Regions from separate parts of the Homo sapiens genome. Here region 2 is linked to region 1. Evidence: fine-mapped expression QTL. A gene starts in region 1. The other region holds a variant in brackets. All regions are shown on one strand. Distances are from middle to middle. Region 1 holds the start of AMPD3 (adenosine monophosphate deaminase 3). Region 2 overlaps AMPD3 (adenosine monophosphate deaminase 3).

Region 1 (9,706 bases):
CCTCAAAGAAGCTTTCTCTATCCACCTCCTCGCATACTGATTCCTTACTAACAGTCACTGGCCTCAACCACCTGCTTGGTTGGTTGGGTTTCATTCTTGCTTGCTTGCTTTCTTCATTTCCTTATTTCTTTCCTTTTTTGCAATTACTTGTATAGCACTTAATATGTACACTCTGGCCAGGCGCATTGGCTCACGCCTGTAATCCTAGCATTTTGGGAGGCTGAGGCGGGCAGATCACCTGAGGTCAGGAGTTTGAGACCATCCTGGCCAACATGGCAAAACCACGTCTCTACTAAAAATACAAAAAAATTAGCCAGGCGTGGTGGCAGGCACCTGTAATCCCAGCTGCTCAGGAGGCTGAGGCAAGAGAATTGCTTAAACCTAGGAGGTGAAGGTTGCAATGAGCCAAGATTGAGCCACTTCACTCCAACCTGGGTAACAGAGTGGGACTCTGCCTCAAAAAAAAAAAAAAAGTATACTCTGGGGCCGGGTGTGGTGGCTCACGCCTGTAATACCAGCACTTTGGGAGGTCAAGGCAAGAGGACTGCTTGAGCCCAGAAGTTTGAGACCAGCCTGGACAACATGGCAAAACCTCATCCCTAAAAAAGATTTAAAGAATTAGCCAGGTATGGTGATGCATGCCTGTAATCCCAGCTGCTAGGGAGGCTGAGGCAGGAGGATCTCTTGAGCCAGGGAGGTTGAGGCTGCAGTGAGTTATGATCGTACTACTGCACTCCAGCCTGGGAGACAGGGTGAGACCTCGTCTCAATTTTAAAAATAAAATATATATATATATATAAAATATATATTATATATAATATATATTATATATAATATATATTTTATATATGTATACATACATATATATACTCTGCAAAGAACTTCATACTTATTAACTCAGTTAATCTTATTATTCCCACTTGACAGATGAGAAAATGAAGGCATAGAGAGCTAACATGCCCAGGGTCACACTTTTAATAAGTCAGCAGAGATTTGTGCTGTTCTCAGCCTTTCTCTCTCATCCCTTTCCTCTCTGATCCTCAGCTCAGGGATCTGAACCCAGGCACCTGGTTCCTGCCTCTGTCCCCTCACCCACCATGCTGTGCTGCTTCTCTTTGTCCACGTATGTGTCCGGGCAGGGGCTCCTCACAGTCCCCAGCATAACACTTGTGGAATGGATTAATACTGCACCCTTTTCGACAAGCCACCCTCGTTGGGAGCAGCTCTGGAAGAGGAGTTTCCCATCTACCTATGACCACAGTTTCTTTAAAGTTGGTTTAAAGAGAGAAGTGGTTTTGTGGACCAGACAGACAAGAATGGAGATGAGACAGAGCCCTGCTGCTGTCCAGCAGGGAGAAGTGCAGCTACAGGGGAGGGGAACACACTAGGCCATCTTGGGACAGTCATTCTCCGGCCTCACAATGTTCTCATCTGTGAGATAAAGGGATTGAACTAAGTGGTCTCTAAGGCCCTCTCAGCTCTAAGTGGCATAATTCTAGGTACCAGAGAGATTTCCGGTGCCTGAGGAGGGCTTGCTGCTCTGAGTCTGAGTGGCATGTGGGACTAAGTCATGACACAGACAGGAAGGAAGAAAGCAGGCTAGCAACAGGCAATCAGAGTGAGGTCTGTGGCTCCCTTAACTCTGAGACCCAAGGACCTGCCACTCCCTGATGAGAGGAGTGGGAGGGAGCTGGTGGGGAACAGCCTGTCAACACACAACTGTCTGGGGAGCAGACATCAAGACAGCGAGGCCTGGCCTCTGCAAAAAGGAAGAGGAACAGAGCTGCCTGTGGGGATTTCCATGTCTTGATAGCAGAGAGGGGGGAAGCTGGAGGCCATCAAAGGAGGTGACAGGGGAGAGAAAGTCTGGAACAGCACAAAGAACCAGACCCAGGAGGCTCCATCAGGCTGAAACGAAACTGGATCCTCACCTCCCCCCTTATTCCAAGGCCACCAATCAAGGGCACCATCCCAAAACCTCACATCGCATCTCAGAAGAAGATATGCAACCCAACAGCCCAGGCAAAAGGCCGCAAATGCCATAAAGCACCATACCATTTGACTAAGCAACTTTACTTCTACAAATTTCTTTCAAAAAAAGAATCCTAAGAATGAAAAGCACAAGGATATTTACCTGCATTATTTACATAAATAGCTTTAAAATGCCTAAATTAGAGCATACTCACTTGAAAAAGATGTTAAGTAATCAGAATTATGATTATGAGGATGGTGCAATCACATAAAAAAATAAAAATACAGTAAATGAAAAAATTAATACATAGAACCATACCCATGCTTTATTTACAGTGAAAGGAAAATGCATCCCTTTATGGGCAAGACCTGCAAGAGATTCACGCAGTCAAAATGACCAGGTGGCAGGGCTGCCTGTGTGTGAGAGGATATTTTATTTTGATGATGAATGCTATTATAATGCCATTTTTAACAAATACAAAGAGAATAGAAAGAAAATGAGTAGACTTAAGACTCTATGAAAAGAGAGAAAAATAGGAAAACAAACTTCTTTTTCTGGCAGGTTTTGGCAATTAGGGCTCCCTCCTTAATTGCCGAAGGGAGGGAGGGAGGGAGCATCACCATACCTGGCTAATTTTTTTTTTTTTTTTTTTTTTTAGAGATGAGGTTTTGCCATGTTGTCCAGGCAATTTGGGAGGCTGAGGAGGAAGGATCACTTGAGGCTAAGAGTTCAAGATCAGCCTAACCCACACTATTGAGAGGCCAGGCCAAAGGGAGTTTCACCATTCAGACCTATCTCTGTGTTAGCTCCTACCCTGGACAGAAGCCATCCACCACCAGCAGCACCTTCCTACCTCCTTCATGCCCTCAGACACACACAGGCCTGACCCAGACACCCCCAACCAGGCTCCCTTGGCAATGGGTATTTGGGTGGGAGGGAAGTCCTTGATGTCTGAGGGCTCTTATGCCAGATCCTGCCATGTTTGCTCATGAAGCATGCATTTATTCATTGATTGATTGAGAGACAGGGTCTCAGTTGCCCAGGCTGGAGTGCAGTGGCACAATCACAGCTTACTGCAGCCTCGACCTCACAGGCTCCGGTGATTCTCCCACCTCAGCCTCCCGAGTAGCTGGGACCACAGGCACACACCACTATGCCTGGCTAATTTTTGTATTTTTAGTAGAGATGGGGTTTCACCATGTTGGCCAGGCTGGTCTTGAACTCCTGGTCTCAAGTGATCCGCCTGCCTTGGCCTCCCAGGGTCTAGGATTATAGGTGTGAGCCATCATACCAGCGCACAAAGCATTTTTAGCTTGCTCTAATCAACTAAAAATACTTTTCAGGACACAGCTTTCTATAACATATCTTCCTTTCTCTTTAGCTTAAATCAACCTTTCCCAAACTGGATGCCATAAGAAATTGATACCTGTTGCTGGTAAAACAGGTCCTGTGGTCAGTTATTGGGAGATGTTGCATTCCACAGCCCCTCAACTCACATTCATAAGGCTCATTAAAATCAAGGATCATAGAGTAACATTAACATACAGAACCCTTTTTGTTTTACAGAACCCATAAAAATCTTCCGCAGAACTACTACCAGTGTCTTAAATAGTTGGTAGATAATTCATTCCAAGACCGGGTGCAGTGGCTCATGCCTATAATCCAAGCAATTTGGGAGGCTGAAGAGGATCGCTTGAGGCCAGGAGTTCGAGATCAGCCTGGTGCAATATGTCAGAACCTCATCTCTACAAAAAATAGAAAAAAAAACAGCCAGGTGTGGTGGCATGCACCTGTGGTCTCAGCTATTTGGAAGGCTGAGTTGGGAGAATTGCTCGAGTCCTGGAGGTGCAGGCTGCAGTGAGCCATGATGGCACCACCGTACTCCAGCCTGGGTGACAGAGCAAGACCTTCTCTCAAAAAAAAAAAAAAAAAAGCAAGAAACAACAGCAACCACAACAAAATAATTAATTCCATATCTTAGTATGGACCAAGTAACCCACTTGGGGTGCTGCAGGCCTTAGCAGCTGCCCCCACATCTGCTGCCTTCTGGATGTCCTTGGCAGACAGCTCCCACCTGCCAACCCGTCCCTCCAGAGTGTCTCTCCTCTCAGACCCTCCAGACACCTGCCAGGCCAGGCCTGACAAGGAAAGCTCACTCTGCAGATGCCAAGCAGAGCTTCAGCTCCAGCTGCATGTTCACGCCTGGCTTCCAACCCTTTGTCAGCTGAAGCCAGCAGGCTTGGGAGGCTTAGCTGTGAATTCACCAGCATCAGTCAGCCAATGATACAGCTTATCTCACTGTTACATGCAACACGCTCTGATGAACTTGAAGAAGTGTCCCAAAGTTAGAAAGTTCTAAAACACTGCCAGTTTCAACAAACAGTAACTTTTCATGGTGCCACAGTCCCTCCAGAAAGGAAGCCCAGTGCCACTGAAATCCCCTCGTTATACGAAGGAAGCTGGTTCCTACTCTTGCCAGACTCCCCTTGCAGAAGCCCCGACACAGACCTGAGCCTGGCTCCATGACTGGTCCTGAAGATGCCACTCAAGTGATGCACCCGGGTGAGGTGCTGCCTGCCACCCAGGAGGCTCAGCTGAGTCAGTGCGTGCGTGCAGCTGGCTGGGTCCTGTCTGCCGGCTGGAGTAGGAGGTCTCTGTTTTGCATATCTGTGAGCAGCAGTGAGCCAGAGCAGGAAAAGCCTGGGCTGGAAATTCTCTCGTGAATATGAAATATGAGTGGAAAATTTCCAAGAGCCCTGAAGTCCCCAGGTAATCCCAGTTATCCAAAACAAAATGGCTGTGGTATCCTGAATGCAGTGTCCTGGCCCTCTTCACAGCCCTCACAAGAGGAAACTAAAGCGGCGGCTTCCTCTTTACAACAGTAAACTCAGCCGTCCTGCCCAGCTGCAGGAGATAAGCCACAGCCTCCCTCTAACGCCCAGCCTCCTCCTGAAAGCTGAGTAGCAACGAGCGATATCATCACCTTTGCTGCTTCCGTTCTGAACGTGCTTCAGGCCTGGCTGCATTTTATCAAGGGGATTGGTCTCAGGTACAGCCCGACCTGCCTCTTCTCAGAAAGCCCCCCTAAAGCAGCCCTCCCAAGGGCACCCCATAACTGCCAGGGGGAGCTTCAATCCCAGTTGCTAATACAATCCCCTCCATCCCCTCCTCCTCTGAAAGGGAAAGACCATGAACTGCTTCCACCTTTCCCAGGAAAGGACAGAGACTCAGGGAGCAGGAACTGCCTCAGCACAGAGGCGGACAGAGGACAGGGGCAGGCTAGGATGAAAAGCTGACAGCCCCATCCCACTCCTTCCTTTCTTCCCAGAAGGAAGCCCACATCACAGGTGACTGCGAAGCCTGATAAGCTTTACCAGAACCCCCACCCCCATCCACACACACAGAAAAGGAGTACACCCCAACTGACCCACCGGAGCCCACCCCAAACCCTCCCCTGCTTACAGCCGCTCACTGCTCCCACGTGGGCCTCCAGCTCCGAGCGCTGGCTGGACTCTGCCACTCCTCCTGGGGAAGGTGGAGCCTGCCTCAAGTGACCCACAGGAGCAATCCTCTAAAACCAAGCAGGGTTGATTAAAATGGCATCACAGGGTGCAAAGCTCTGATCTTCATCTGCCCTTTAGGAGAGTGGGAAGGCTCAGAACAGACACATAGCCTCCCAGTGACTTAGGCAAATCCTGTGGTCCTGGGAAATAACCATGAGCAAAATGGCTATTTCTGTGGTGCTGTTGAAATCCTGGGGAGAAGAGCTCAGGAAGGATGGGTCAGTTGTTTACCGGGAGGCTAGCTGTAACCCTGACTTGGGCCTGAGTCACCTCCGCATGTCCAATCGTGAGGTTGTGTCTTACTGAGCTCACATCATAATTCCTGTGTGCACAGAGCAGTATTACAGGGTTGACACATGATCCTCGGGCTGCTGCTGGGCTTTAGCTACCCAGAGATTACGGCCCACCTGTCCTCACAGCTGTTTCATAAACAGTGCAACCAGCAGGCTACAAGCAACCTAGAGGGAGGGTAATATTTATTCATTAAACAATTAAATGAACTTACAGTATGAGAAAAAAATCCAAGCCCTTAGTACTATTCTGCCAGAAGGAGGAGGGGCAGATGACTTTTTCTGCTAGTGTTTTGGGGAAAGGGGAGGTAGAGTGGGGACTGCAGTGGGAGGATTCCAGCCCAAGGATTTAAGTCCGACACGTTCAGGGAATTTTATTCTGCACCTTTAACCGGATCCCAGCTAGCCTTAGTCTAAACAAGCATTTTTCAAAGTGCAGTCTGCAGAACATGAAAGGTCAGAAGGCTTGGAAAACACTGCATCCTGTAGTCCCTTATGGGTATTCATGCACAGTTTCTACTAGCAAATTCAACACCTGAGAAGTCCTGCAGTAAAGAAAGCTGCTTAACTTTGTTTAACCCGACGCACTTATTTGACCATCCTAGAACTGCTGTCATAGGAAAAAAACACCTATTAATATCTTGTGGTATCGGCTTTGGGAAACACCCTCCACCTTGAGTCTTCATTTTCCAACTTAGAGAAAGCTGCCTTCCTGGAGCCCAGTTTACAGGTATGAGACCCATTGCATCGGGTTCAGACAGAAACCAGCAGCAGCTCCACTAAGATGACACAGGTTGTAACAATGACCAAGGGTCCTGCTGAAGCCAAAAGGCGGGAAGACTCCCCAGAACATGGGCAGTTTAGAAGAAAAATACAGTTCTGTCCCAGAAGAGCAAGCTCTTCTCAGGACCTCACAATTCCACCTTGAGCCTAACTTGTTGCTGCTTCTTGCAGCCAAGATGTCTCTGTGGACTGAAGAGCACTGATCCCAAGCTCAAAGCCTTATTTCCCTTTCGAACAAACATCAAGACAATTTATGATAACCAGATACAGGGCCCGCTTCTCCTGCCCGAGACTAGACTGCATCCCCTTTTATCACTTAAGCACCCCTTACAAACTCTAAAAGACAGGAGAGGACGGAATCAAATTATGTCTCATCAAGAAAGATATCGGCCGGGCATGGTGGCTCATGCCTGTAATCCCAGCACTTTGGGAGCCCGAGGCAGGTGGATCACAAGGTCAGGAGATTGAGACCATCCTAGCCAACGTGGTGAAACCCCATCTCTACTAAAACACAAAAAATTAGCTGGGCATGGTGGTGCGCACCTGTAGTCCCACCTACTTGAGAGGCTGAGGCAGGGGAATCACTTGAACCCAGGAGGCAGAAGTTGCAGTGAGCTGACATTGCACCACTGCACTGCACTCCAGCCTGGCGACAGAGCAAGACTTTATCTCAAGAAAAAAAAAAAGAAAAAGAAAAAGAAAGATATCACTCTCCTCCCCAAAAGCCAGGCATGAGCTTGCATAGAGGGGTTCATTTTTCTTCTCATTTGTGAGGTGTGTGTGACTCACACAAGGAGTTGGACAAAGGGGATTCACTTGCTAAATACCAGCTCCATGACAAATCTCGCCTGTCTCATTCACAGTTGTATCCCCATACCTGAAATATGGTCGACATTCAGCAAGTATTTGTTGAATGAATGAATGCATAAAACAATGAACAAGTGAACTAGCTATTTATAATAGATCAATCCACCTATGGCAATCTCAGGAATGAGTAGAGTGTATGGCTAAAAACGTAGACTCAGGCTGAGTGTGGTGGCTCACGCCTGTAATCCCAGCGCTTTGGGAGGCCGAGGCGGCCAGACCACTTGAGGTCAGGAGTTTTGAGACCAGCCTGGCCAACATGGGGAAACCCCATCTCTACTAAAAACACAAAAATTAGCCTGGCATGGTAGCGGGCGCCTGTAATCCCAGCTACTTGGGAAGCTGAGGCAGGAGAATCGCTTGAACCCGGGAGGTGGAGGTTGCAGTGAGCTGAGATTGTGCCACTGCACTCCAGCCTGGGTGACAGAGTGAGACTCCATTTCAAACAAACAAACAACAACAAAAAAAACTCCAGCTAGACTCCCTGCATTTGAATCCTGTTCCACCACTTAGTTGTATGACCTTGGGCAAGTTAAATAACTTTTCTGTGGCTCGGTTTTATTCCCTATGAAGTGTGGATAATAAAAAGCCAATCTCATAGGTTGCCATGACAATGAGCATAAGTGAAGTGTTTAGACTGGTACCTGGCATAGAGTATGTGTTTTATAAGCATTATCTGCCAACATCATTGTCATCATCATTATGATATCAGATACGAGAGAGAAGAACTAGGAAAATGAACATGAAGTTTTATCTAGACACTGAATCCTTTTATTCAACCTTATTTATTGAGCACCACCATGTGCCTGGCACTCTCCCAAGTTTCTATTACCTGGGTGCAGGAAGAAGGAAAACATATTTAAATGTGAAGCCAGATCAGGAGGAGGAACATCCTTCTCCCCTATGAATGGTACTTCTCGGTGACTGTACACAGCCAGGACTCCAGCCATGAGCTCATCCTCCCATGCCCCAGTCAGTTCCTTACAAATCAAAAGCCCAAAGCAATTGTCTGTTGTCCTAGATATGCAACCAGCATACAGAAGAACTAAGAGATTATTATACTTGGTGGAAGAATCATGGAGGCCAATGGGCAGCTTTAGGGGAGAAAGGGTATCTCCCTGTTAACCCGAAGGCTACATGTTATCTGCCCATGACATTTTCAAGACCTGAGACAGATTTTGAGGCCATTTGAAGAGTGATCCAGTCAGTGTAGAGGCAAAAAAAAACAACTACAAAAAACCTCATCTCTCAAAGAGCTTCTTGACCTAGCTGAGAGCTAGGAGAACCTTAGAAGACAGAGGCTGAGCTAAGGATGGGACTGAGAGGTCAAAGAGTCTCCCAGCCACCACCTATGCAGGTGTCATTATTCCTAGAGAGGGCAGCCCCATACCATCATCCTCAGAGCAAGCCAGGCCCCATGAAGCTGCAGCCAGGCCAGGCCAACTACCCCAGACCTGCTGTCAACACTCCTAGAGGTGTGAAGTGACAGAGGCTCTGTCTGTCTGGCTCAATGGCTCCACTAACACTCGGCCTTAGTGCTGCACAGCCAGGGAAAGAATTTCTCCTCTGCAGGTTCCAGCTGCAGGCAGCTTTTCCATGAAGATGGCCAAATGTTGGTCACTGCATCCTGAGGGAAAGCCAACAGGGGCTCAAGACCATGCTAAAATCCCTCCTTGTGCTGCCTGCTTTCACCCAGCTCCTTTGCTGATGTGTCGCCATCAAGCTTTCAGCCACATACAGTTTGGGGAAATGATACCCTAGTTAGCAAGCCTCTCCTACTCCAAGGCCTCTCAAAACTCTCCCCAGGGACCTCTGCCAGCCTACAACAGCCATTAGCAGCTCTGCTGGCAAAGCAGCTACCAGAAGATCAAGGGCAGAAAGCAGACTGCCAGAGCCCAAGGCTGTACACCTCCCTTGCCGGGAGAGAGCCAAAGAGGTAAGGATGAAGGCCTCAAACGACCTCATCACCCTATCATCCAGTGCATCCCTCGCCTCCAGGTAGAAGTCCACCTCAGCTGTCCACATCCAGCCAGTCCTCAAGCACCTAGGAACTTTGCCCAGGGTGGCAAGTCCCAGGTCCCTTAATTTCTCTAAACCTTGCGATTCCATTCTAGGCCGCCAGGGAATCGGGATGCTGCCCGCTCACCTGAGGCCGCTGGGGCTCGGGCCACCGCAGAGGCAGGGGTAGGGACAGGGACAGGAACAGGGGACAGGGCAAGGGATCGGACCGGAGT
Region 2 (11,082 bases), 47 kb before region 1:
AAATTTAACTGTTAGTCCAAAGAGGAACAGCTCTTTGGACACTAGGAAAAAACCTTGTAAAGAGAGTAAAAAATTTAATACCCACAGTAGGCCTAAAAGCAGCCACCAATTAAGAAAGCGTTCAAGCTCGACACCTGTCATCTAAAAAATCCCAAACACATAACTGAACTCCTTGCACCCAATTGGACCAATCTATTACCCTATAGAAGAGCTAATGTTAGTATAAGTAACATGAAAACATTCTCCTCCGCATAAGCCTACATCAGACCAAAATATTAAACTGACAATTAACAGCCCAATATCTATAACCAACCAACAAGCCATTATTACCCCCACTGTTAACCCAACACAGGCATGCCCACAAGGAAAGGTTAAAAAAAGTAAAAGGAACTCGGCAAATCTTACCCCGCCTGTTTACCAAAAACATCACCTCTAGCATTCTCAGTATTAGAGGCACCGCCTGCCCAGTGACATGCGTTTAACGGCCGCGGTACCCTAACTGTGCAAAGGTAGCATAATCACTTGTTCCTTAAATAGGGACTTGTATGAATGGCTCCACGAGGGTTCAGCTGTCTCTTACTTTCAACCAGTGAAATTGACCTGCCCGTGAAGAGGCGGGCATAGTATAACAAGACGAGAAGACCCTATGGAGCTTTAATTCATTAACGCAAACAACACTTAACAAGTCCACAGGCCCTAAACTATCAAACCTGCGTGAAAAATTTCGGTTGGGGCGACCTCGGAGCACAATCCGACCTCCGAGCAACACATGCCGAGACTTCACCAGTCAAAGCGAATTACCACGTTTAATTGATCCAATAACTTGACCAACGGAACAAGTTACCCTAGGGATAACAGCGCAATCCTATTCTAGAGTCCATATCAACAAGGTGTTAGCTGGACAGACTAAAATAATACCCCGGGAAAAGGAAAGGAACATGTATAGCTTTGCTCATGAACTATAACAGGGTAGAAGTTAGAGAAAATAACAAAGGAAGATTTATCTTCTGGGTCTGGTGAGCTTCAGTTTGAAAATTTTGAGTTTTCCTAGTGAATGTCATTCATGTCGGAGTCTTAGTAAAAGATAAATTAGCTATTATTATTGATAGCTTTTCATGGTGCCCAATCTTAAGAGTAAAAATCTTTAACATTTGCTTTAAATATGATTATCTTTAAATAGTTTTAAACTATTGAGCCACAGTCCTAGCTGACTTTATTTAACAATTTAAAAAAAGATACTTGATACAGATAAAATGACAATGAGAAACTACACAATACTTCCTATGTTAGGGCAAATGTATATAAACGGGGGCTTTTCAAAACTAATCCCTAAGATAACAATGGATTTTCATTCAATTTCATAATTAGCTGTAAGATAGCATATATATCTGCCTAGTAAAAAGACTGCATTTATACTTCCATATGCTGAATTGACCAGTGGAGGGGACAGGCATTATAAAGTCACAAGATGAGACAATCTAAAGTCAAATAAGTTCACAGGCAGAAACTGGATTCTTCTTCTAACTATAATGATTCAAAAAGACCTCCTGTAGTCTGAATTTGACCACAGAAATAGATAGGAAGGTCCTTGAGCAGCCTCTTAAGTACTAAGAGCACATGTCCTTAAAAAGTTGCCAAAAGAAATTCACTTAGTTATTCAATATGCATTTATTGAGCACCTACTACATACCAGGCACTAGTAACACAGATAAAGAGTACACTGATAAAGCTTAATTCAGATTAATCTTTAAAAATGCTTTCTACTTGGCCCCTGGGACCATTGTATCTTCTGAAGTCATCATAGTAGATAAGGGAGAAATTTTGCCTTAAAAAAATGCATCCGGTTACAGTGATTAAAAACACACACACACACACACACAACTAACATTTGTGGGGTCTAATGGAATAGTGGGGAAAAGACAGGATTTGGAATAAGGAAATCCAGTTTAGGCCTATTACTTATTAGCTGTGTGCCCTTAAGTTAAATTTCACTTATCTGGCCTAACTCTTAATTGGTAAAGTGATAATTGGCCTACAGTTGTAGCATATTAGAGCCAAAAGGAACAGAGATCATCTAGTCCTGTGCTTTTTGAAGTTCTTCGTTCAAATGAAAATATTATGTAGCAGCCCCAGTGTAAAACTGATGAACGCAGTCACTTTGACAGCCCCTGAGCATCACTCACTCCCTTCCCTCCCCTACCCTAAAGTATTCATGAGGAGATTCACAGAACACCCTGAAAGCCACTCATCTAGTCCAAACCCTCACTTTCTAGGTGAAGAAACCAAGACTCAGAATAGGAGTGGCTGTTTTCATGAGTACATTTGGCTTCCAACTAGAAAGAGGGAAGGAGGGCTAAATAAAACGGTTTAAGAAATTCACTAAAAACACAATTTGTCAAGAAGGAAGTCTTCCATCTTAACTCCTTCAAAGTAGCCCCTTTATGAAATGGAGCTTTGAAATTGATTGTGTTTAAGGCAGCCAGCCATCCAGAGGCTGAAATGAACAACTACCAATTAGCCTACCTGGGCCAATGGAGAAAAGTATGGCAGAAAACCACATGTTACTTGGCATCTGACCAGGGAAAATCCTGGCCCCAACAGTTCAGGCACTGGCAGTTTCAAGAGAAATACTTGGAAAATTAGGAACAAGTATAGACAAGTGCTCAGCTCCCAGATCCCCAAGGAGAAGTCACCATCTTGTTACTCAGAAATACTAACAAGTGAGCATGTTAACTCTTAAAGTGAGCAGTGCAACCAAAATCACCAGTTTAAAATTTCTTCAGAGGCATCCTCTTCACAGAGGAAAGTCCTAGTTCGGAATCTTGACCACTATTAGCCACAGCAGACTTGAAATTGAACCAAAAAGTTAAAATGCATGTCAAATGCTGGACCTAGTTGGTCAAGGCGGTGATCTCTTCTGATTTCATAGCATCAGACAGGAAGCTGAGCTCATTGCATAAGGTCTCATATCGGAATGCCATCCGGATCTGAGCCACATTTGTCTTTCGAATATCATTTCCTTCAGGTCCTTCTTTATAATAATTTTGTCCCAGAAACTTTTGCTTTTCCTGTGGACCAAGAGAAATACAAATGAAACTATATACTTTTGATTCACTTTCTATAGCCATGTGGGCAGCTTTGACATCAGTCACAGCAAGTCAGACTAGTCCCCCTGAAGCAGATCTTTGGTCAGGACATCTTATCCCCACAGAACTCTTAAAATTCCTGCTGGCCTCTGTGTCCTCAAGGATGTCACCCTGACAACCTCAGTCATCCTCAGACAGCCCTTCATTCCTGGCTGTGCTTTCCTTGATCAGAGAGGAAAGATAAGGTCTGCAGCAGCTGCTGGGGATGGGAAAGGCAAAGGGGAAGGAGGTAAGACTCTAATTAAGAAGCCCCTGAGAGCTGACAAGGACAATGTTCCTGGGGAGGGCCAATCCAAGGCACCACACTGCGCATGAAAAGAATCTTAAGCCTTTAACTCTGCTGCATCATCATCCGACGAGCACAGCCCCTAATGCAACCTCTTCCCAACCAGTGACATCACCCAGGGAGGTGTCGGGGGACCTAACGTACATCAGAACATGGGTCTCAGTGCCAGCTCCTCATCAGGCTTTTTAAAAAATGACAGATGTCTGAGTCCCATAGTCTAGATTTTTATTCAGTCTAGATACTGTTCATCTATTCAAGAAATATTGAGCGCCTGCTATGTGCCAGGGACTATCTAGGGCCCGGGGATATAATTCTGAACAAACCTCTGCCCTCACAGAGCTTACATGCTAGAGGGAAAGACAGAAAAACACATAACTAAACATCAGCAGGAATAAATGGTATGGAGAAAAACTGATTAAGGGGATAGAGAATAATAGCAAGTGTGTGGCTATTTTAGAATGGGCGATCAGGGAAGGCCTCTCCAAGGAGGCGTAGAGGTCTGAGAAGGGTGAGGAAGCAGCCATGAAAACACAGGAGGCTGCCGCGTCTTCTCTCCCTGTGCCTGAGTGTCTCAGAGGCCCTGCCTGCTATGTTCATCACAGATCCCCAGTGCCTGGAAGGCTCCTGGCACACAGCAGGCAGCCTTCCCAGGAGGGACACAGGCAGCACCGTCACACTCCATACCTGATGCGAGAGGCCGCTCTGCAGCACGCTGTTCCTGGCGATCTCACACAGGTCGCAGGTGCTCAGCTTCCACACTTGAGCTGCAATGGCATATTCTTCCATAAGTGCTTCCTAGATCCTCCCCCAAAGCATGTGGATTAGAAGGGGGGATATCCATGTCAATCGTTCACACATGTCCAAAGCTAACAACATCAGACACTGCGGGTTTAACTTTTCCTCACTAAATGGCACCTGGATCATCAAACATCACACCTTCAAAGCCTAAGATCTTTTCTTCTGTAAAATCATGGGTTATCAAAGAGAGATCTAAAATCACGCCTCTACATTTATTCATTGACCAGCACTGAGACCTCATGTTGAAACCCTGTGCCAGTCATCAGGGATGGCAGTCTCTGCTCTCCTGTGACAAGCCCTCTAGTCATGCCACATTTAGCACTTGCCCTCTAGCTTTTCTTTTTAACACACTATTTTCTTAAGTTTGCAATAGATAGATAGATGATAGATAGATAAATAGATAGATAGATAGATAGATAGATAGATAGATGAGTAAAGTACTAAAAGCAGAGATGGAACATCAAAAAAAAAATGAGAAGTGATCATAGGATAAGTGGTAAAATGGTGTAATCCCAGAATGATCTGGGTTTGAGCTGTGGTTTTGCTTCCCTTCTGGGATGTGAAGTGTCTATTCATCACAAGCCGTCTGTGACCTCTTCCCCACCCCACTGCCGCTGTAGCCTAGAGCAATAGTTCTCGAAGTACAGGTCAAGGACCCCTGAGGGTCCTAAGACCTTTTGAAAGGTCTTGTCTTTTCCAATTATGTATTTTCATGAGGCAAGATTTCTATTTTTACATATTTTGATTAAAAACAAATTGAATGCAGAAGTGGCTAGAAGAGTCCTGCTGACTTCCATTAAGACATTAAAGAGGCTTAAAAATGCAAAACAAAGGCAGGGGAAACTGTTACTTTTCAGAAAAAAAATCATTATTATGTAACATTTCATTGGTTTATTGATGTGGTTTTTAAATGAGATAATAAATATTTTAAAATTTCTTATTCATTTCTAACATGGTAAATATCAGTAGATATAACCCACATAAACAACAGGTCTTTGAAAGCTTCAATTCTTAAGAGTATAAAGGGGTCCAGAGACCAAGAGGTTGGAGAACCTCTGTCCTAAAAGACTCTGGTGCTTCTGTTTTTGTTAAGCAATGGCTGGTCTTGTCGACACCATCAAAACATGCTGGGTATACTTGCGGCTAGTCCCCATGCATGACACCACTGTTAGCTTCCTCTTTTATTTTCCCAGAGACCCAAAGTGTAGAAATTATAATAGCATTGATTTAAAAAGTAGCAACCATTTTGAATATATGCAGACACTATGTTAGAACCTTTGATTCATTATCTTCATGAATCCTTACAGGGTAGGGACAGAGAAAATTTTATCTCCATTTTACAGATGAAGAAGAACTTGATCCAGAAATCTAATAACTTTACCAAGGTCACAGAGCTCATAAATGTCAAAGAAAGAGAAAATAGAGGAAGGCAAAGATACTAAATTGTGCCTTTGAGGGTTCAAGAACCCCAAAGAAAGGGCTCCTG[G/C]ATGGCACAATTTTCCCCCAACAGTGGCTTCCTTCCTGCCTTCACTGGGCCACCAACCCCACCCCAAAAGCAGAACTAAGCCATGGGCTCAGGTTCCTGAAATGGGAGGACAGGCTAGGACTGGTGCCTACTGAAGCACTACTGTCCTCACCCCAAAGTCCTTACCTTCGTGTAGTGGAACTGCATGGGGTCATCGGTGGAAAGAGAAACATGCAGTCCCTTGTGTAGGAATTCCCTCAGAGGGTTCTTGGAATATTCGAGGAACAAACTGTTGTTGCTAAGAGGAGACATGGCAATGGGGATCTGAGCAAGGTAGTAGAGATACTGCAATACCGGACTCTGCAAAAGAACCACCGAACTCATGTGACAAGTGCCAGAGAGGGGAGAAGGGAAAAGGGAAGGGAGAAAGGAAGGGAAGAAGCATTCACCAGTGGAAACCAGGGGTCTGAACCATGTCTGCCCAAGTCCTCAACCCGAGTTCCTCGAAGCCAGGACACTCAGACCCACTCTCCCCTTCCCCACTGTTCATCTCATTCCTACATTGCATGCCAGCCCTCCCTGGTGCCTCTACCCACTGTTGGAAGTGCTCATTCTTGCTCCAAACTGGAGGCAAGGCTCAGGGCAGGAAGGGCAGCCCACTCCAGCCTACACCTTCAGCTCCTTTCTCCTAGGCACGGACCCAGTCTAGAAGATGCCCCCCTCTAGCTGTTTTATTGCTTTGACTGCAAACAGCCAGGTTGAGACTATAAACACTCCAGCTCCTGGGAGATGATCCCTGAAGGGATGGGAGGGGTGGACCTGCCCAGGATAGAGTGGTTTTCTACTGTAGCACCCACCCCACCCAAAAATGTGACCCATGGTTACACCTCACCGGGATCAGGGAAAGGGAGCATTTTGATCAAACATCGTGCCAATGGAAAGTGATCCAAAATACGGAGAAGACTGTATGCACAGAGCTCAAGGGTACACCAGTGAAAAGGTGGATGGACTCTGTGCCCAACTAGTGTGGACTGGTTGAGTCAATTACAGACAAAGTGGCAGACCCTTCATCCAACAACAGCCTTTGGAAAAAGGAGCATAGATATTACGTTGCAGCATCAAAAAATGCTTGTCATACAACAGTAAGGGACGAGGCAGGAACCAAATTCTGTGTTCATTATGATAATAAACACATTAAAAATATGCTGTGGATAAAAGATGGAAATTAGATATACTAAAAAGCTAATAATGGCTATTTCTATTAATGTAATAGCATAAGGGCTGGCTTTTTTCCATTTCTCCAGTTTTTGGAAAATCAAAATTGTGATGAGTTTGATTATATTACTTTCATAATTAAAAATAAAACCAAGATAAGGACAGACATCCCAGCCCAGAAGAGGGCCCAGCCTTCTGGCCTCACTGGTTGAGCCTCCCAGGAGCCCAGGGCAGGGCAGTCACTCAGGACGGGCTCCCGAGAGTGACCTGGTTACCTTCTTGAGGAGCAGCCCGTGGGAAATGTTGTCAGCAGTGAGGAAGGCAGACACCAGGTGGGTGATGGAGCCGGCTTCCCCACAGTGCGGCCGGAACAGGAACGTGCTCAGGCCGCGCTCCCTGTAAGAGAAGGGGTTTCCGAATCAGGAAGGCCCCCCCCAGTTGGCTCTGCCTGGGGCCTGCAGCCACAGCTCAGGGCCAGCTCCGGGGGGAATGACCACCCATGGTCAGCTGTGCTGACCCAGTGCACCCTGGAAACTACCCCTCCTAAAATGCAGAGGTCCAGGCCCTGGGGCCCCTTAGAACCAAGAAGCATCACCTCTACGGGCAGAGAGTGGGCCTCGCAGTAGAAAGAGACCCTGCTGTGCCCTCCAGCCACTCTCCTGAATTCCTCTCCTGGCCTTGTGTCCCGCATTCGTAGAACTCCAGAGCAGGGAAGGCCATGAGAAACCACAGAGTCTGACCTCTGTGTTATGGAAATGGGCAAACCAAGGCCCGGAGAGTGAAGTCTATGTTCCATGCCACTGAACAGGTCAGTAGCAAAGCCAGAACCAGAGCCCCCATCTCCAAAAGCTCAGCCCAGGACTGCCTCCACCCTGCCAGGCCATTTCTTTCAATCAGGACCCCATTCGAAACCTCCACACCCACCAACTAGCACCAGTTTAGGCTGAGCTAGAGAGACCCCAGGGCCCAGCAGGGGAAAGTGGGATGCAAGACTTGTAGGGAAGGGAATGGCTCAGTGTCCTGCTGCCCTGGGCAGCTAACTCCTGGCCACGTGTGCCTCGTCTGTGTGCGTATTGGTAGGAGCCTCTGCCTGTAAGGGCATGCATGGATTTAGTCTGTTTTGTTCCCCGTTATTTGTCCAGTGCCCAGGGCAATGCCTATCGCATGCCAGATGCAGTGATTTGCTGAACGAAAATATGCACGTGTGGACATTGTTGGTGTGGCAGTAAGTGACCGTGCATGTGTGATAGCATGTCCTATGCTTCCATTATCTCAGGGATGTACAGGTACACGTGGAGTGTGCCCTGGTGTGTGTACATATAAATGTGTGGACACGTGTGGACTGTGGCTGCATTGCATACTGTACATGACATATGTCTGTACTGGCATGTGTGTTATGGTGGGCATGTTTGCATGTGTGTGATCATGTGGAGACATGCCTCATATAGCAGGCTGGAAAGTGCTGTGTGTTTTGAGGTGTGTGGGCACATGGACATGCATGTTGGTTCAGGTGCACACGGACACAAGGATCACATGCATGTGTGTGTGCATGTGTGTGCATGCGTGCATGTACTAACACATGAACCCAAGCATGTGCGAGGGCAGGCCTCACGCACCTGCGGAGGTTGTTGAGCACCATGATGTTGGCATACATGTAGTACAGGTAGTAGCTGTAGGGTGGGTTCTGCTCACTGGTCCAGACGTCCGGGTTTGGGCTCTTGTCGGAAAACATGTGGTCGCTGTGCTTGGACTCATCATCCACGCTGTCAAACCCCGTCACCTGGGCAGGAGAGGTCCTGAGCACCAGGCCAAGGCAGGACCAGGACTCAGCCTCGGTTCAGCCTCCCAGAGCTCATAGCTGCCAGAGGCCTGTGGGTCTGGGCCCCTCAGGTTCACACCTCAGCTGGGGACCCCTTGGCCTGCCTGAGGCCATATTCCTCCCAGGGATGAAAAGTGGGTACAACACCAAGGTCTGCCCCTTCGGAGCTTCCATAGGTACTCTGGAGGTGAGACAGGAGAGTGCCAAGCCCCTGTGTGGTGGTGGTGACAGTGGAGGAAACTGCCAAGCCAGGTGAAGGGCAAAGCAGCCATGGCCACCACCTGCCCCTCTGCTATGCCGAGGCCAGCCTGCAGGGAGGAGTGGCCATTGCCATCAGCAGCAGCGACAAGCGATGAGGGAAAAGGGTCCTAGTACACATCACTCATCAAGCCCTGCTCAAAGCACTTTACTCACGTCAGTTAATTCATATTCAGAGCAACCCAGGAGGGAGGGGTTGGCTGCCAGCCCCATTTTACAATTGAGCAAACCAGGGCCAAAGCAATTAAGAAAGTTGCTCAAGAAACCAGGTTTGGCCAGACATGATGGCTCATGCCTGTAATCCTAGCACTTTGGGAGGAGGAGACGGGCAGATCACGAGGTCAGGAGTTCGAGGCCAGCCTGCCCAACATGGTGAAACTCCGTCTCTAGTAAAAAAAAATACAAAAATTAGCTGGGCATGGTGGCGTGCACCTGTAATCTCAGCTACTCAGGAGGCTAAGGCAGAAGAATCACTTGAACCCCGGAGGTGGAGGTTGCAGTGAGCCGAGATCGCACCAGCCTGGGTGACAGAGCAAGACTCCATCTAAAAAAAACAAAAAACAAACAAACAAAAAAAACAGGTTCTGGGCTCTGGGTCTGCACTCTTTGGGGCGGTAGGTAGAGAATACTCTAGGGCATGTCCAGGTGTGGCCAGGAGAAACCCGCCAGCTGCCTCACAGACAGATAAGAGGGTCCTTGCTGGGCTAAGCCATGGCTCCTGGGAGGCAGCTCTGCTCTCCAATCCCCACTGGGAGCTGCCCTCTGAGATGGGCCTGAGTAGCCTCAGGAAACCCCCACCCTTCCACTGCAGTTCTACCTTGGCTGGGACCCCTGGGGGGCTGCTCCTGAGTCACTGGAGCCTTCTGGCTGATCCCAGGGGTCATCCCCAACCAAGAACACATGCATGGAGGGTACGGGCTCTCAGCGCACAGGGGAGGCTTGCTACCAGGCCACGGCAGTGCTTTGCAAAGGGGCCTCTGAATAGCAGATGGGAGAAAGAGACTGTCCCCCTTAATCCACAACTGGCCCAAACTGGAGGGCTCCCAGCCCACGCCCCAGACCCCAGCCAGGTCTGCTGGCCTCTCCTGTTCCTATGGGGGCAGCAAAGGCCCAGAGGAGCAAGGCAGCTTGGCCAGAATCTTCCGTGTCACAGAGCCCTGTGTGTCAAAGGAAATGACAGGGTCCCTGCTATGACCCTAAGCACTCCCTAGACGGGTTTGGGGGGCCAGGGAGGACCTTGAGCTCTGCTCTGTGCTCACTAGCTCCATACTTCACCCGAACTTTCTGGGGCCTGGCATGCGGATAATTTCAGCCCCTCTTCAGAGCTCTATCCAGCTGAAGCAGGGCCTCACCACTGCATCTCCCACAGCCTCGGGTGCAAAATGCGTTGTCTCCTCCTCCTGCTCTTCCTCCTCCTCCCCATACCTGCTCTTCCTCCATTGCTGGCAGCAACCTTCGGACAGCACATCATCCATGCTCCTGCAAAGCCAGGCACCTGGGAGGCATCCTAGACTCCCCCCAGTGCCTCCTTCAGTCTCTGTCCAGGTCCTGCCAGGTGTACGCCCACCGCTTCTCACCAAGCCCCACACTTTGTGCAGAGTCCCTGCGCTGCCACACCTCAGAGACGCAAGCTGGTAGCTGCTGTGCACCTTACTATTCTCACTTGGGAGGCAACATAGAATAGGGGTTCAGGGTACATCGCTGGAGTCAGCCTGCCTGGAAACGCATTCCAGCTCTGCCACTTTTAGCTTTATGATCTGTTTTAATTTCCTTGTGTGTCAATTGAAGCTAGCAGCTTCACAGGGCTTTGGTGAGGATTAAATGAGATAATCCAGGGAGAGCACTCAACACCGTGTCCAACACGCACCAAGCACATAATAATTCCGCTTACTGTTAACAACAAAATGGTGATAGTAACGGGGTAATTGTGAGGCTTAGGTGAGATCACGTTGTGGCGTCTGACCAGGCCAGGCAGAAGCACGCACGAGTGTGAGCTATTTCCGCTGGGTCAAGCTCCCCTCCTGTCTCCAGGCAGGCCCCTGACTCTCACCCCTGCCCCCACCTCCAGCTACCTTCTCTTCTGGGCCAACTCCAC

What was found.
Region 2: its variant is fine-mapped to the expression of AMPD3 in blood mononuclear cells (TOPMed, PIP 0.96).

The regions. Positions count from the first base shown.
Region 1 is chr11:10,451,177-10,460,882 of GRCh38, reverse strand. AMPD3 (adenosine monophosphate deaminase 3) reads right to left here and starts at 5,619. Exons shown (of 15, transcript NM_001025389.2): 1 at 5,435-5,619. RefSeq lists enhancers at 1,766-1,895, 4,695-4,744, 9,013-9,142 and a silencer at 9,573-9,702.
Region 2 is chr11:10,497,694-10,508,775 of GRCh38, reverse strand. AMPD3 (adenosine monophosphate deaminase 3) reads right to left here. Exons shown (of 15, transcript NM_001025389.2): 11 at 8,527-8,690; 12 at 7,186-7,306; 13 at 5,882-6,055; 14 at 4,117-4,227; 15 at 1,197-3,068. The coding sequence ends at 2,892. It overlaps MIR4485 (microRNA 4485), which reads left to right and starts at 450; the gene lies at 450-506. It also overlaps the pseudogene MTRNR2L8. RefSeq lists an enhancer at 8,114-8,707. The variant G/C (reference allele first, on the strand shown) is at 5,717.